Linked DNA regions of Homo sapiens: region 2 is linked to region 1. The links come from fine-mapping of genetic effects on gene expression. Tissue or cell type: naive CD8 T cells. Region 1 holds a variant in brackets; the other region holds the start of a gene. All regions are shown on one strand. Distances are between the middles of the regions.

Region 1 (2,683 bases):
TTTGAATTTTTTTTTTTTTTTTTTTCTGAGATAGAGTCTTGCTCTGTCGCCAGGCTGGAGTGCAGTGGTGTGATCTTGGCTCACTGCAGTCTCCAACTCTGGTTCAAGCAATTCTCCTGCCTCAGCCTCCGGGTAGCTGGGACTACAGGCATACACCACCATGCCCAGCTAATTTTTGTATTTTTAGTAGAGATGGGGTTTCACCATAGTGGCCAGGATGGTCTCCATCTCTTGACCTCGTGACCTGACCCCCTCGGCCTCCCAAAGTGCTGAGATTACAGGCATGAGCCACCGCGCCCGGCCTCTTTTTGAATTTTTTTAAAAAAACACCTAAAGTTTAGGAAAGTATAAGAGGCCAAAGAAACAAGAGTTCAAAGAAACAAGAGTGTTATACACGCACACTTGCAGAAAGGTAGTAAAATATCTGTATAGTTCTGGCTGTCAAGCTTTTGGACTGAGATATGCGTAAGCAAGGCAAAAAGATCCCATAGTCCAGGAATATCAACCAGTCCAGTTTCCCAAGGAAACTAAAAGTAACTGAAAATGAGAAGGGTGCCATATAGGAAAATTGAAGGTGGGGCATAATTATTAATACACTGCTTTGGAAATGCTGGTATGGAAGATTCATATATGGACTTCAAAGCATACATGTCTTATACTTAGCTATGGGAAAATTATCATCAAAATCTTCATTTATACAAATCACGGGTATTAGAAATAAAATCAGGTATTGTGTACAGTCAGATCCCAGGTTTACACAAACTAGAGGTTTCAATTAAGTTTCCTTCATTTTATAAAACCATGACACAAGCTGTAAATAAAGGAGCTCTGGCTTTAGGCCTTCTTCTGTTTATAGACAGTAAATTTTAATCCTCTGTCCCTGCAGACCAACTCAAAGCAGTAACCTTGGCTACCGTTGCCGCAGAAGAAACACACCCTGCAGATTTCCAGTTCTATATTCAGTCTTAGAAAATTGGTCATGTTGAAAGGGAAAAAACAATTTTACTTTGCCTCAGTTATTGACACCAAGAAGCACTCCTCAGCCTGTTCAGAGGGGAAACAATGAGTCATTCATGCTGTCAGCCCAGGTGGTGCATGAATTCCAGACAGAGGCCGCTGAATTAACCCGTGGAGGCGTCTCTCTGAGCAGAGCCCGCAATGCGCCTGCTTGGGGCTCCCTGCAGCCTCTGGGGGAGGCAGGGCGGCCCAGAGCAGGCCTGTGCTGGAAAGGAACGCGAAGCCCTGTAACCAAGCCTGTACCTCTGCAGTGCTAGTCCCAAGGGGCCTCCGAGCTGTTTGTCACCATGTGATTGGCTCAGGAGAGGGGTGGAGAAATGAAAACACTCTGCCCAGGATATATTTAGTTGAAGTGCAGCTGGGGAAGTGCTTAAACAAGGGAGCTTTTGTCCTTATGTTGAAGTGTTTTTCTTAACTCCTCAAGGGTGAAAAACTTGAGCCACGTACTGATCCCATTCCCCCCCACCACCCCCAATATATTTTCTCTTCTTTAGGAAATGCTCTTATTCTGAAACTTTAGAATTTTCTAGGGTTTGTTG[C/T]ATAAGAGGAAACTGAATAATTCTGATGCAGAACTGACACAAAATTTAAAGCACAAACTTTTAGTGGGAGACACAGTTAAGAAATTCAAATAATTTCTTAACACATTAGAAGTTTGCATTCTTGCCATTAATTTTCTGTAAGTTCAAACTGGAAATTGGCTATTTTCAAACGGCTTTACTTGAACTAATTTATGGAGTTAAAAACATAATTAAGTGTTATAAGCTGACAGAGCCCTGTTTCACTCGAGCTGATTCACGGTTTCCAGTAATGAAAGATATCCTTCTGCGCTGCTGAGCACAGCTTCTTTGCAACAGATGACTGATGAGCCGTGTAACGGCTCCTGTTCACATCCTCCTCAAAAAATGGCTGAAAACTGCCACCTTGCTGCAAGGCTTTATGTAAATACTGTATATTAGGGCACATTATCTATTATTAAGAAGTAATGTGGCTGGGCACTGTGGCTCATGCCTGTAATCCCAGCACTTTGGGAGGCCGAAGCAGGCAGATCACCTGAGGTCAGTTCAAGACCAGCCTGGCCAATGTGGTGAAACACCTCTCTATGAAAAATACAAAAATCAGCCAGGCGTGGTGGCGCATACCTGGAGTCCCAGCTACTCAGGAGGCTGAGGCATGAGAATCGCTTGAACCCAGAGGGGAGGTTGCAGTAAGCTGAGGTTGCACCACTGAACTCCAGCCTGGATGACAAAAAAAAAAAAAAAAAAAAAATAGCAACACAGGAAATATTTTCCATGAAAATTCCATTTGCAGTTATGAAGCAGGGGCAAAAACTTCTGGACAAGAAGCCCGTGGTTTTGTTGATACTAGCAAAGCAGGCTGTAATAGTGCTCTCCAGAGAAACAGAACCAGTAGGATGTGCATATTTATAGACAAAGATTTCTCTCTCTCTCTTTTTTTTTGAGACAGGTCCTTGCTCTGTCACTCAGGCTGGAGTGCACTGGCGTAATCTTGGCTTCCTGCAGCCTCAACCTCTCCTAGCTCAAGCAATCCTCCTGCCTCAGTCTCACGAGAAGCTGAGACTACAGGTGCATGCCACCATGCCCAGGTAATTTTTAATTTTTTGTAGAGATGGTGTTTTGCCATGTTGCCCAGCCTGGTCTCGAACTCC
Region 2 (2,683 bases), 180 kb before region 1:
CCAGGATGGACAGGGATCAAGGACCTGGGACATCCTTCCTAATTTACCAGACACTTTATCCCTGAACGTGAGCAACCTACAAAAGGCTCTCCAAGATCCCTCATGCCCCTGTGAATGTTCATCTAGCGCAACTTAGGCAGGAGCCTAGGAAAGCCGTCTGTGTCCCCCACCAACAGAAAATAAGGGAGGCCACCAAGGGTCGCCTAGAATCCTGAAGCTCAGCTCCAACCCCTGGTGCAAAGCACCCCTCCAGCGTAATTCTGGAGGCAATTCTACTACCCCCCACACTAGAAACTGCTTCTTTCAGTAGCAAAAAAAAAAAAAAGAAGAAGAAGAAGAAGAAGAAAAAGTAGGCGGGGCGTGAGGGAGCTGCAGATGGTAGAAGGGAGAGGGAGTAGCGAGATTAAAGTTAGACAGGCCTGGGTTCAAGTCCTACCTCCACCACTGAGTTTACCTTAGATGAGCCATTTTGCCTCTCTGAAAATGTTTTCCTCATCTGTGAAATGATTATAAAAATAAATTATGGGAAACGCTGTCAGAATTCAGAGCGCTATTGTTAGTGTTCAGCATTAGCAGAAAGCCAACAAATGGGAACCACATATTTATTTTATATATATAGTTAAAGAGAGGAAAGAAAATTCCTAAAACATGTACCAGGAAAATCCAGACGAGCACACCCCGGCCCCCCACCCACTCTCCCGGGCAGGGCAGGAGGCACACGGCTGGCTGGGGCGCACCAGGGCACCTGTGCGTGCAGGTGGGGCGGGCGCGCGGCGACAGCAGGTTGGCGATGCCGCCCTGTCGGCCGGCGGGGGAAGGAAGAGGGCGGGAGGGCCCACCTGAAGACGCGCAGCAGCAGGCAGGCGATGAGGAGGGTGGTAAAGGCGAACGCCACGATCACGGCTGCCTTGAGGGTGGGTAGGTCGCGGAGGAGGATGGAAATGCGGGTCACCAAGGCGTCGCCACTGCTGTTGGAGCTGGAGCTGCCGCTGCCGCCCGCCGCCCCAGACCCAAACCGGGTGGTGTTCCCGGGCCCCGGGCCGGGCGGTGGCCGCGACTCGCGCTCGGGTTCGGGCCACGGCGCGGAGACGGACTCGGCTCTGCTGGCGCGGGCGGCGGGAGCGGCCAGGAGCGCGAGCAGCAGCAGCGGCAGGAGCGGGGCGGGCAGCGGCACGGCGCGCATAGTGCGGTGGGTCGGCACAGGATCGGGCAGGGCGCGCGCGGCTGAGCTCCAGGATCCGCACCAGCACGGAGGCCTGCACCGGGGGATCCTGCGGCGGAGGCGGCTGCGCGGTGCTTGGCAGGAAGCTGCGGCGCCCGGAAGAGCCCGCGCCACCGCCGCCGCCACCACCAACACGTTGCAAGGAGTCATTCGACGGGCCGCGGCCCCACGTGGGCGGGGCAGGCCACCCGGCCTGGGTCCCGGCTGCGCTCCGCTCGCCCGCGACCCCAATTCCTCGGGACTTGAGACCCCGTGGTGAAGCAGCAACTGCCACGATGACACTTGGGCTGGCCCTGTGTTACACGTTTCACGTGTTTTATTTATTTCATTTAATTCTACAACCCCCTTTGAAGACAGGTATTCTGTTACCCACATTTGATAGCTGACTTGGCACCCAAAGAGCCAGCTCACAGCAACCCACATTGTGTCAGACTAAGAATCAAAAACTATGGGACCTAGAAGTAGACTCCCATCTTGCAGATCAAAAACTGAAGCCGACAGTGAAGTGGTTGCCTGATGTCCTATGCAACGCATAATTTCAGTATCTCCCCTAATTTCCCTCTTTCTCAAAAGGGGTTTCTTATTTCATGCGCCTCTGCTTACGAACCGGACTGGGATGTGAATCTCTGCCTCTCATACCTTTGTTGTGGAACACCAGTTGGTGTGGTTAATGCCCCCCTGCCTGGCTGAAGTTTCTCCGGGGAATAATTGGCTTGCTGCCTCTGGTTTGTAAGCTAAATGATGCTTAGGTGGAGAAAGACAATTAAGGAAGTTCTAGTGGGAGGCCCAAAGGTGGAAACTGATGGGGACACAGAGCCCCTACCTGAAGTACTAGGAGCCATTCCCAGGGCTTCAGGGTTCCCCTTTTACACTGCAGATGGGTCCTGGCAGGAAGCTTTTCGGTGGTGGGTAAACAGTTAAATACACATGACATGACAAGGTCCCAGGGACCTTAAACAGCCCATTTCTGGTCCTGCTGGAAAAAGAGACAAATATAGTACAGTGTATTAGTTGTCTACTGCAGCATAACAAATTGCCCTAAAACCTAGCTGCTTAAAACAACATGCATTTAGTATCTCACAGTCTGTGGGTCAGGAAACTGACCATAGGTTACCTGGGTTCTCTGCTTCAGAGCCTCTCCCAAAGGTGCAATCAAGGTGTCAGCTGGGGCTGGGGTCTCCTCTGAAGGCTCAACTGGGGAAGGATCTGCTTCCAAGCTCAATCAGCATTTTTTGGCCAGATTCAGCCCTGCACTGGCTGTTGGACTGGAGCCTCAGTTTCCTTGGGGCAGTTGGCCAGAGGTTGCCCTCAGTTCCTTGGCATGGGGCCCTTCCAACATAGCAACTTGCTTCATCAAAGTATGCAAGTCAAGATAGCAATAGAAAGAGTCACCTACCAAGACAGAAGTCACTGTCTTATGAAACCTCATCACAGAAGTGACATTCTCACACCTTTGTCATA

Evidence for each region. PIP is the estimated chance that this variant, and not a neighbour inherited with it, causes the effect.
Region 2: FAM174B starts here. The variant in region 1 is fine-mapped to the expression of FAM174B in naive CD8 T cells (Schmiedel 2018, PIP 0.93).

What each region holds. Positions count from the first base shown.
Region 1 is chr15:92,830,724-92,833,406 of GRCh38, forward strand. No RefSeq gene overlaps it. Among named protein-coding and RNA genes, the nearest start is that of CHASERR, 51 kb to the right of the region's middle. RefSeq lists enhancers at 966-1,015, 1,396-1,595, 2,352-2,411. The variant C/T (reference allele first, on the strand shown) is at 1,557.
Region 2 is chr15:92,654,477-92,657,159 of GRCh38, forward strand. It overlaps FAM174B (family with sequence similarity 174 member B), which reads right to left and starts at 1,299. Exons shown (of 3, transcript NM_207446.3): 1 at 840-1,299. The coding sequence starts at 1,183. RefSeq lists silencers at 676-745, 796-845, 946-1,145, 1,426-1,475.